Linked DNA regions of Homo sapiens. The protein of the gene in region 2 interacts with the protein of the main gene of each other region in a biochemical or structural test. Each region holds a gene or a part of one and is shown on either strand. Other genes may lie near its edges. The genes, in order: TLR4 and SIGLEC9.

Evidence for each region.
Region 1: the proteins of SIGLEC9 (region 2) and TLR4 form a complex in vitro, tested with the Homo sapiens proteins (one study listed by IntAct).

The regions. Positions count from the first base shown.
Region 1 is NC_000009.12:117,721,118-117,725,237, reverse strand, and holds the end of TLR4 (toll-like receptor 4 isoform A precursor), read right to left. Parts: 3' UTR 503-4,120; downstream 1-502.
Region 2 is NC_000019.10:51,119,901-51,128,031, reverse strand, and holds the start of SIGLEC9 (sialic acid-binding Ig-like lectin 9 isoform 2 precursor), read right to left. Parts: upstream 3,127-8,131; 5' UTR 3,058-3,126; coding exon 2,637-3,057; intron 2,436-2,636; coding exon 2,157-2,435; intron 1,952-2,156; coding exon 1,904-1,951; intron 1,003-1,903; coding exon 736-1,002; intron 84-735; coding exon 1-83. UniProt on the Homo sapiens protein: Putative adhesion molecule that mediates sialic-acid dependent binding to cells. Preferentially binds to alpha-2,3- or alpha-2,6-linked sialic acid. The sialic acid recognition site may be masked by cis interactions with sialic acids on the same cell surface.

The DNA.
Region 1 (4,120 bases), on a different chromosome or scaffold from region 2:
CAGATAAATGTCTTTGTCAGGGTCAACTGATGCCAATTAACTATTAGCTTTCATGTAATTCAGTATTTATACTATATTGTTTCTTTCCTCAACTCTGCTATACATGGTCTTCTACTTATTACTTCCCAGATTTATCATTTACATTTTTGCTCTTCTTTTAGGTTAAGAATTTAAAGATCCATCTGCAGAGCTGTTCTTTTACAATTTCCAGCTCAAATGGGCCCTCCTCTGTAAAGCCTTCTCTGATTGCTTCTAGGAAGAACAACCCTCCACTCCCCACCACCCTGCATTTTGGCATAACATTGTGTGTGTGTGTGTGTGTGTGTGTGTGTGTGTGTGTGTGTGTGTATTGACATGCCTCTCTTGCCAAAATGAATCTGAACTCCGTAACTTTGAGGGCACTTCTTGGTCATTTACTTCTGCAGCTTCATGTGCCTTTTCAACCACAGAGTAGCTTCTTCATAAATATTAGATGGCCAGATGAGTAAAATAAAGAACACTCTCAAGGAGAAAAAAGAAAGTGAGAACTTTATTTCCGTGTACTGAACTGCCAACAAAACTGAGAGGTAGATATTATCCCCATTTTAAGCCGAGACAAACAAGACAGATACCATAAGACAGGATCAGAACACAGATCTGTCTGATTCCCAAAGCTTTTGTTCTCTCTAATACATGAGAAGAAAGACAGGCACATTAATGGTCACATGCAGAAGCGGTTAATGGAGTTCACAGACAAGAAAGGAAGAAAGAGAGCAAGGAGAAAATGAACATCAAAAAATAAGGAAGTTGGAATACTGACAGGTCAAAGCAGAGAGAAAGACAAGACTTACTAAGCAAGAACTAACTTAGTGCACAATAAGAAAATGCAAAGGAAGGAAGATTGTGGTGACATTTAGAGAGCTTAGAATGGCAACAGAATTGAGCTTCAGATATTTGGAAGAGTTTTATTCAAAACCGTGGCAAGAGCCAGAAAAAGTAAAGGGCAGAGACAAGGGCCTGCAGCAGGCAAGGAGGAAGCATGATTTAGAGACAGATGCCACAGCTCAGGAAGGGAGCGGCTTGACCCTGCTGCTTGGAAAGGGGCATGCCTGGGAGTGCTGGCACTAAGGACACTGTTGGTTGCTATTTGCAGTGGCATAAGGATGAAGGATGATAGCAGCCCTATAGTGATATAAGGGACCATCATGAATGGCATTTCAAGAAAGAAAGCAGGAAGGAATGAGGAACCAGAGTTCTCTGTTTTTATCAATCCACAACTGTGAAATTTATGAAGAAAGTTTACTCTCAACTGACAAGCATTCACATATGGTAAGAGGCACAAGGGGTCGAATGGTACCTCTGTGACTAACAGTGTAGGAGCCTGGGAGATATCACTTTAAATGTCAAGTATGGGAAAGAAGAAAGAATAATTGCAAGGATTAGTCCACAAAAGTGCTTGAGTTTAGAGAAACTGTATTCTTCTCCTTTAAGATAATTAAAACTGACCAAGTATACACATTGCTGAAATAGAGGAGACTCCTGTAAGAATGACATATAGCTTAATTTAAAAGCTTTTGGAATATGTAGGCAAAATGGAAGATATTCTTGAGTTTATAACATGGGGCAAAAGAGAAACTCCTCCTTGGAGGAGTTTTCAATCTGTTATCATAATAACTCCTTGCATTTATGTAGCACTTCCCTAAATTTTATTGGAGGCTCTGTCTCATTTCATTCTCAAAACTTTCACAGAAGACAGCGTAAAAATAACGTTATCTCATAGATAAACAGAGACCAAAGAGCAAAGAGATCAAGAGATTTGCCTTTGTTCAACAGCCTGTTAGTGGTGGAGCCATTTCACTATCAATGTCTTGTTTCCACAGCCTTTCACCTATAACTCAATGGGGTTGATAGCTTAATCCTTTTCAGAAATGAGGGAACATGGGAAATATTATAAATACATGGATACATCATGACTTGACGAATGAGTCTCCCGTTTTGATATAGCATCATCAGGTTTAGAACGCTAAAACCACATGTTAAGGATGCTGGAAAATCTGGATGATGAAGTTACACCTCTAATCATAGAATAGAATTCCTGGAATGGACATTTACTCCAATTGCCACAATTTATAGGTAAGGAAACAGCCCTGGAGATGTGAACATGCTAGAATGTCAGAGAGCTGGCCTGACCCTCAGCAGCCGTTTGGTTCATTCCTTTCTGACTGCCAATCTTTCTTGTGACACCTTCAAAATTTTTCCAAATCTGCATACCTTTTATATAATTCATTTCATCCCGTTTTTTTCCTAAGTTGGCCCACATTTTAAACTTAAATATATTTTAAAGAGATAATTGATTCTTAGCTAGTCACAAAATTTATTATAAATAAAAGTAACCATGAAAATAAACATATAACCACTAAAGGTAATACATTCATCTGTCAACCACATAAAATCATCTTATTTACTAACATGTCACACTTTTGAAAATGCTGATCTGACCTAAATGTCCCATTTTACAAATGAGAGACCTGAGCCCAGAGGTGCGCTCCCGGTGGCAGACCTGAATCCTAAACCTCACTACCTCTATCGCTGTTCACTTATCTGATCTCAGCTGTTAATATGCCAGAAACTGGCAAAGGTATTCCCTGCCTTTAGTGGTGCTAGACTCTCAGGTGCTGAAACCACAGCTAATTCAGCCAAAGATGATGTGTAGAGAGGACTCAGAAGGCCCTATTAATAACTCAGCTGAGCACAGCACTAGCCAGATATTCATCCCCTGCCATTAATTTCAAAAGTGCTCTTTGCAAGCAGGAAAATTTTGACAGCAGGTGTTTCCCACTGGGGAGCAGTAGACTCCTCAGAAGACTCAGGGTCTCAGCTTAAAGACCAAAACTACTGAATTTCAACCGTCAGTGATCACTTCCCCAATTCCCCTCAACGATAAGGAAAAAGGAGTTTCTGGGAAGATTGGCAGTGGCCCAGCAAGTTTTCGCAAGGAAATCCTGTGTTTTTCAGAGGGGAAAGTCATTTTTGGAATCTTAGTACTCAAGGCAAGATGAATACTTAGCAAAAGTGGAGTTAAATTTTACTTTGATATATTTTGGACTGGAAACAAAAAACAACATCACATTGACAACAGATGCCTCAGAGAGTTTAGAAAAGACCACAACATTTTTCTGGTATATATTTATGTGGGGTCTCAGCTACCCAGGATGATAAAGAAGGGAAAATGACAACGTGATAGGTAGAAACTAGGAGAACTAAAATGATTGCATGGACACAACATCTAAATGGATGTAGTGAGCTCACCATCAAATAGGCCAATCCTAGTATCCCAAAGAGTCTGATCTAGTGGGATTGAGAAGAATCAACTATACAGTGTAAAATAAAAATACATTATCTGACCTTGCCTGGGCTATCATGAATCTTAGCAATAAATCTCAAGAACAAAACCAATAACCATATTAAATGTGGGTGGTTATTCTCCATTTTCCATTATAACAGTAATTCCCAAATCTGTCTGTGCACGAAAACTGGGAGAATATTTTAAAATATAAATTCCTTAGGACTAACCTCTGATATTGAACCAGAATTTCTAGCAATAAAGATCATAAAGATAGATAATTAGTACCTAGATACACAGACACATAGATAGCAGAATGAAAGTCATTAAGTGATTCTTAAGCCAAGCATTTGTTTAAAAGTGAGAGTTTGGGACCTGCTCAACTTTGTCATCTTCATATATGGTTTCCATTTTAATCGTTGTATTGAAATAAAATCAGCTGTAGACTGCCTGGAATTCTTTGTCAAAATGAAGTTTGCAAAAAGAGGCTAGAAGAAGATAGAAAAGATGTAAGAGAGAGAGCAAGTGATTTGGAGACACAAGATCAAGGAACCGATCTTGGGATAGAAAATACTCTTCTCCAGTTCCATCCATGCTCTCACTTATGAGTGGAAACTAAATAATTTGTAGACATGGACATGGAGAATGAAATAACAGACATTGAGGACTCAGAAAGGTGGGAAGGGGTTAAGGGATGAGAAAGTACCTAATAGGTACAAAGTACACTGTTCAGTTGATGGTTACGCTAACAGCCCAGACTAAACCATTATGCAATATATTCATGTAACAAAACTGCAT
Region 2 (8,131 bases):
GATGACGCAGAAGGACAGGAAGACCAGGGCTGTGGCTCCAGCTCCCCCGACCACCCCCTGAGTCACTCCTGATGTGGCTTTGCCTGTTGACAGATGGGAGTTATTTTTGTGATATATCATAGAGAATTGGGTCTCTTCTCCTCCCACTTCCTGTAGGGTCCTAGACTTCTATTTCCACTTCCCCTTTCCAGACACAAAGAACAGGAATGAGAGAGAGCAGGACATGGAGAGACTCTTCCTGAGGCCAGTGAGGCGTGCAAGTGCCAGCCATTCCTTTTGGGGTTTTTTTTCACAATTTTAATATTTTATCCATTAATGAATTTGTTTTGCATTCAATTTTTACTTTTTTTAAAAGATTATTGCATTGCAATATGATTTCATTTGATTGCTGACTTGCTGGGCTTTTTCTTTTTTTTAATTTGATGCTCAAAGCAAGTATCTCAGTTGTGTGACTCCAGTTCAGCCCTGCAAAGAAAGGCGCTTGTCTCCCTAAACACACCTGTCCGGCCCCATCCTGTCCCCTCTGAGATCCACTCCTGCCCTCTCCCCACCCCACAACCCTTCCCTGGCAGGAAGAGGACAGTGGTGCTGTGGGTCCCAGGGAAGTTCCAGACCTCACAGCTGAGCACAGACCAGAGCGGAGCTCCTCTCTGAAGGTCCACGCTCAGCAGTTACTAAGGGTGGAGGAGGTGTGTTCTCCTCTCCAGCCCCTCCCCAGCATACTGGTGCACTCACTCTGCAGGGAGACGTTCAGGTAGACCTGCTGAGAGCCGAGAGGGTTCTGAGCTCTGCAGGTGAATTCAGCTGCATCCCTCAGGTGCACCCAAGGCAGCTCCAGCACCCCCGGGTTTGAGGGCTGTGAGGGGCACAGGGTCAGGCCTCTCCAGCTCAGGCTCAGCCTGGCAGGGGGATTGCTGTCAACTGCATCAACTGCACAGACCAGGCGCAGAGACTGGCCCTCTGGGAGTGACAGAGATGAGCCATTTCCCAAGACTGTGGATACTGTAGAAAAAGAGACAGAGGGTCAGAGAGATACATAGATCTGGAGAAAAAGGAAGGATACAGAAAGAGACTGATGACAGCAACTGACACACAGACATAGACTGAAGTTCTGGAAACACACACTTTCACCACTCACTGCTGGGAATGTAAACTTCTCCCCGCTTCATCGAGAACAGTTTGGGCTTATCTTTCAAAATAAGAAAGAACATATAATGTAGCTACATTTTGCTTTTAGGAACTTAACCCACAGGCTTAGATATTCCTGTGGAAGTAGATACAAGATTGTTCTATCCTGCCGTAGGATGAAATTAGTGCCGTGATCTTCCATTAGGAGATGCCACAAAATCAGAGTCCATCCATGCAGTGGACTCACACACAGCCCTAGAGGAGGGTGCGGACAGTCTCACTACGGACGTCAAACCACCTCTGAGATCCTCCAGGTGTACAAACCGAGACTCAGGGCAGCCTGGATGGACAGTGGTTGGTTCTGGGGAGGGGGGCAGGCATCGGAGGAGAGCCTTTGCTCTGCAATTTGAATTTTTGCCCATGGACATTTATCACCTGTCCAGAAGTACTTAGATCAGAACTATCAGAAATAAACAGATAAGGGTGGAGATGTATTCAGGAGATACATGAGAAGGAGCCTCAAAGCCTGGTCCTGCTGTGTGAATGCCACCCTCTTCTTGTTTGAGGCTGAGGGGGGGGTGTGTGGGGGAGTCCAAGGGAGGTGATGGGAGGATGGGAACAAGTGGCCTTGGGGCCTAAGGATACAGAGGGGCCCTGAGTTCACCCACAAGGACATCCCTGTTTGCCAAAGTGAGTCCAGGTTGAGGAATAAGCCAGCCCCATCCTGACCTGAAGGCCCTGCTCCTCCAGCCCCAGGGAGGGAGCTCCATCCTACCTGTGCCGTCTCCTTGGAAGACAGTCATGGTCAAGTTCTGAGGCGGGTCTGGGACAGAAAGACATGGAGACCCGCATCACTGTGAGGGCTGGGGACACTGGCCCTGTCTGTCCCCAGGAGCCGCATAAACAGGGAAGGCAGAGCCAGTGTCCTCCTGACCCCACCACCAGCCCAGATTCCGGGACCCAGCACCCAGTGTCCAGGCTTGACGCTCACCCCATCAGGGACCCAGGCGTCCCGGCCCAGCACTCACAGGACACGTTGAGATGGACGGTCTTGTTCGTGGTCACGCTGGCCCCAGGGAAGGTCACCTGACAGGTGAGGCTGGTGCCATGGTCCTGGGGCTGTGGGATGAGGGTGAGCACCGAGGAGCGGGTGGTGGAGGGGTCCAGGGGGGACACGGAGGTCCCTATCCAGGAGATCATAGGGGGTGTCCCCTGCTCACAGGCCCAGGGCACAGAGCAGGTCAGATTCTGGGGGCAGCCGGACTCCAGGGTGCCTGGGATGAGGATGTTGGGCCTGTGGGTCAAGGCTGGTGAAGAGAGGGGGACTCAGGATCAGGTCAGAGGATCCATGGTGCAGCCCTGGGGGGAGCTCAGGCTCTGGTCCAGCTCCTGCCCTGAGCCAACTCGCTTCACCCTAAGCCCTCTCCTGGGGCAGGGGCTCCATCCCAGCCTTTCCCTGCCGCCCCCATGACCTTTCCCTGTGGCCTTTCCTGGAGCCTGTGCCTTACCTGTCACATTCACAGAGAGCCGGTGATGTTTATAATTCCATTTTATACTTCCTTTCTCCATACGAAAGAAGTATCTCCCCGCATCACTTCTTCTGGCATCTCTGATGCTCAGGGTGCAATTCTTGGTATGTGGGTCCCCAAGGAGGTGGAATCGGTCCCGAGTCTCCTCCCACACTGCCCGAGCTGGGTTGTTTGTGGCCACTGGAGCATCCTGGTCTGTATTGGCCCCTTCCCGGAACCAGTAGCCATGAACTACTGGGCCAGGGTAAATCCAGCCATGCGAGGGGTAGGAGAAGGAGCAGGGCACATGGACACACAGGCCTTCCTGCACCGTCACGGAACTCTGCATCGTCAGCAGTTTACTTGTCTGTCCTTCCGCCCTCTCCCTCCCCCAGAGCAGGGGCAGCAGCAGCAGCAGCATGTCTGGGGTTAGAGGTGCCAGGGCCGCGAGGGAACGTCTGTTCCTCAGGGTTCTTCTCTCAGGAACTGCGGGCTCAAGACTTAGAGGAGGCCCTACAGGAAGACAGGGGCGAGGTCGGAACAGTGACCTCCTCAGAGGAGGAACTTTACACCCAGACACTGTCAGGCCCGGGTCAGCCCTGGGAGATCCACCGTCCACCACCCCATGTTCACTCCTGGGTCCCTGAGGCCAGAGCGGGAGACAGACTCACCCAGATTCCCACCCCATGCAGGGCCCACCCCACCTCCTGCCTCCCTCTCAATGCCCTTCCCCTTAGGTGACATTTTCTGCAGGGTGAAAATGAGTCCCATCTGGCCAGACCCCTGAGTCAGAGGCTGTGGATATCTGCGTAGCTCAGAGGTGGGACTTGGGGCCATGAGAGATGGGGGTGCAGGTGGGGTGAGCAGGCAGCCTCTCATCCCCCCCAAGCAAGCACGAGGTGGGCACCCCCTTTCTGCACAACGAGGTCAACACAGCAGAGCTGGACACTGTCCCCAAGGGGTCACTGTGCGGAGGGGAGACATGGAGGCTCCTGACGTCTGAGCTGTCCACGGCAGGAGCTTCAGTTGGGGGGCACAGGCAGGATGGGGTCACTCTCCCGTAGGTCAGGGGTTCAATCTCAGGAGGACTGAGCAGAGGGACATGGGGCTGTGGAGGTGAGGATTCTATGTGTTGATACACGCCAAGGACACAGAGGGGAGCCTGGCTCGCAGGAGGTCTGGGAAACTGAGGCTGTGACTGTTGTACTGTGGGGCTTGGAAGGGAGGAAATTCGGAAGAAAAGGGGCAGATTTCAAAAGGGAAGATATTTCTCCTTTCCTCACTGCACCACGAAGGGTTTCTTCACCACCGATGTCTCGCTCAGCCACACTTCCCTGGTTACTCCAGAACATGAGGGATCAGCTGGCCCTGGGGCTTTGCTTCTGCAAGCTCTGCTCCCAGGGGTCCCGGTGAACAGGAGATGTGGAGTGAGGACACCAGCCCCGGGGCATGCACCCTCCGCGATGGGCAGGATTTCATGGGAGAAGAAACATGCACCTGAATTCAGCAGAAGATTTTTTGTAACTGTGTGGCTGGGCTGGGAGGAACTGGGAGTATCCTGTGTGGTGGAGCCTCCTTAGACCGATGTCAGTTTTCTAGAAATATTTTTGGGAGAAATATAAGCCATATAGATAAAAATGTCTTCCCCCCAAGAAAAAATCTCAGCGGTTTACACATATGAACATGCTTAGAGAAACAGAACACTGGGGATGCCGCAACACCTCCTCTTTGTTACCCCACTTCCTGTCAGCCACACCCCACTTCCTCCTGAAGCAGCCCCAGCCTCACTTTAACGCTAATGGTCTCCATGCTTTTCTAGGTAGTTTTATCATCTGTGCACGTTGCCGTGAATACCTCAGGCCCCCATGTTTGCCCAGTCGCTCCCTGGGAAGTTGCAGCATCTCAACTGCAATGGTCAGAAGGGCTGAGCCATGGCTGACAGTGTTGTCCTGCATCTGTTCTGCAGGGCTGGGTGTCCACATCTGAGTTCTGTCTTGAGCAGGAGGGGCTCAGTCAGGCCTCTCAGCACTGCTCCCCTGGGGCCCTCCACACCTGCAGAGCCAACACGGGCCTCAGATTAGCATCGGCCACTTCAATTCTAACTCAGGCGGGACAGGACAGCTCAGCCCCACCTGGAACTCGGGGAACAATCCTTCGGCTTCCCTAGAAAAGAGCAGGCCTGCTCACCTGGAGTAGTAGCTCCAGGTGAGGCCATGGGGGTTGGGGGGAAGCCAGTGCCCAGGATGGCCCCCTGATCAGGTGAGAACCAGGGGCCAGAAGCCCTCCTGCTTTTCACTCACACATCTGTAGCCAGAGGGGCTTCCTGGGAAAGGGTAGAAGCGTGTGAGATTCTGTTCCCAGGCCTCCACCCCTCTGACAGCCCAAACACCCGACTAGGCTGCCTGCCTCAGCAGCTGTCCTGCAACTCACTCTGCACAGAGGCTCAGGGAAATGTGCTGAAATCGCAGTGGGTGGTGAGCCCAACAGGTCAATGCTCCTCCGTCCCAGCCCCTATCTGAGGCAGCTCCAGGCCCCCGGGTGCTGAGAGCTGGGAGGAATTCAGTGTTCTTCCCTCTCAGGACCAGCTCAGCCGGGCGGGGTTGGGAGGTGGGGTGCTGTCAGCCACACAGACCACAGGGACTCTCCCTCCAGGACAGGCAGTGGTGTACCATTGTTCAGGGTCTTTGGGGCTGGACGAAAAAAACAGAGAAAGCAGGAAGAGTGGTGCTGAGAGGTCGGTTTCTCCCTTACCTCCCATTCGGAATGAGACAGAAGACACATGACTGTTTGACTCATGCTTTTTTTTTTTTTTTTTGAGATGGAGTCTTGCTCTGTCACCCAGGCTAGAGTACAGTGCCGTGATCTCAGCTCACTGCAAGCTCCGCCTCCCACGTTCAAGCGATTCTCCTGCCTCAGCCTCCTGAGTAGCTGGGATTACAGGCATGTGCCGCCACGCCAGGTTAATTTTTGTATTTTTAGTAGAGACGGGATTTCACCATGTTGGTCAGGCTGGTCTTGAACTCCTGACCTCGTGATCTGCCCACCTCAGCCTCCCAAAGTGCTGGCATTACAAGCGTGAGCCACCAAGCCTGGCCCGGCTCATGCTCTTATGTACACAAATCCCGGAGTCCACGCTAGCTGACAGACCCTGGAGGGAAGGAGGCTGAACTGAGATTGGAAGGGGGAGTGGGTCATATTGACGCAAGACAGACAGGCATCACAAGTGAAGGACGAGGGATGTGCAAAGGCTCTGAAACAGTCTGGCAGATGAAGAGACCTGCACATATATCTGGGGTCTTCCAAGGGGACATGGAGGTGTTGGGGCATGACCAGCTGAGGAGCTTAGACTGAGGGTGCCGAGGAGTCACAGGGGACTCTGGGCCAGGAAGGGGTGGGGCTGGTACTGGGTACAGGAAGGTCTTTCTGGGCTTGTGCTATCAGGGGCACAGCATGAAGGGAAGATGGGAGGCTGGGGAGGGGCATGGAACAATGATCAAGACAGCAAAGAGGCTGGGTGCGGCGGCTCAGATCTGTAACCCCAGCACTTTGGGAGGCCAAGGCGGTTGGATCACCTGAGGTCAAGGAGTTCGAGACCACCCTGACCAACATGGTGAAAAGTTGTTTCTACTAAAAGTACAAAAATTAGCCAGGCATGGTGGCATGCTCCTGTAATCCCAGCTACTCAGAAGGCTGAGGCAGGAGAATCACTTGAACCAAGGAGGCGGAGGTTGCAGTGAGCCGAGATCCTGCCACCGCACTCCAGCCTGGACGACAAGAGCGAAACTTCATCTTCAAAAAAAAAAAAAAAAAAAAGACAGCAAAGGGCCTGGTCATGCTGATGGAGGACAGGGGACTAAGCAAGGAGGGCATGACGGGAGACATTGTTCAGGAAGGGAAGTTACAGCACCCACTGGCTCATGAGTACAGTGGATGAAAAGGGTGACATTTGGAGGAAGTGCTGCATCCTGAATGGGGTAAATGGGGGAAGAGAGACGCCATGCATAAGAGGAGGATCAAGGGGCAGAAAGTAGGAGAGGCATCAAGACAGAGCTCAAAGCTGAGCCAGGCAAGGGTGAGCCGGGCATGGTGGCAGGTGCCTGTAATCCCAGCTACTCCAGAGGCCGAGGCATAAGAATCACCTGAACTCGGGAGGCATAGGTTACAGTGAGCCGAGATCATGTCACTGCATTCCAGCCTGGGTGACAGAGCGAGACTCCATCTCAAAACAAAAAACAAAAAAACTCATACTCTGGCCAGGCACAGTGGTGCACGCCTGTAATCCCAACACTTTGGGAGGCCGAGGCAGGAGGATCACTTGAGCCTAAGAGTTCAACACCAAACTGGGTGACACAGTGAGAACCCATCTCTGCCCAAAATTTAAAAATTAGCTGGACATGGTGGTGCCACCTGTAGTCTCTGCTACTTGGGAGGCTGAGGCAGGAGGATCGCTTGAGCCTGGAAGGCGGAGGCTGCAGTGAGCAGAGATTGCGCCACTGCACTCAAGCCTGGGTGACATAGCGAGACTCTGTCTTAAAAAAAAAAAAAAAAAAGAATTCCTGATTCTGACCTCCCTTCCCTCCTGACACCCATTGTTCTCAGGGCCCTGGGCATGGGGGTCCTGATCCACCACTCATAAGAGACATTGAGCTGGATGGTTCTCCCCATGGTCACACCAGCTCGGAGGAACTTCACCTGACAGGTGAGGTTGCTGCCATGGTCACATGGCTGTGGGATAAGGCTGAGAACTGAGGACTGGTCGGGAAGAGGGGTCTTGGAGACTGTAAAATTGGTGGCTTCTCTTATCCAGAAGAAATTTGGTGGGGTTCCCTTCTCACCGGCCCATGATACGGTGCAAGTCAGATTTCCAGGGTCACCTGATTGCAGCTCTTCTGGACATGGATCTCAGGTGGCTGGGTCAGCACTAGAAAAGAGAAAGGGGCTGATTCCTGTTTCTGGGAGTGGGGGCACTCCCTGTGCCAGAGCCCCACCCCAGGGCCCCTGAATGCTTCCCATGACCCCGAATGAGGAGAAAGAGCTCCTTTTCTGGGACTTTCCTCTACTTGTCACATGCAAGAACAACTTCTCATTTCCGTAACTGTATTTCATGTAATAACCTCTCTCCACCTGAAAGAAGTACGTCCCTGTATCCGCCTCATTGGCATCTCTGAGGTTCAGGGAGCAGCTGTAGGTCTGGGGATGACCAACGAGGTGAACTGGCCCTGGTTCTTCTCCTGCAATTGTTTGGGGTTGTTTGTAGCCACTGGAGTGTTCCTTCCAGGAGTGGCTTCATCCTGTTGGCAGTAACCATGAGCTAGGCCGGATCCTGCCCAGTAATACTTGGGGTAGAAAACAGCGCAGAGCACATGCCTGCACATTCCCTCCTGCACCGTCACCAGCTCCTGCACTCTAAGGCCATCTCCTGGATCCTAAGCCAAAGCCCCTGGGGAGAGAAGGAGAGGCTCAGACACTGACCCCGCTCCCCGCTCAGGACCCCT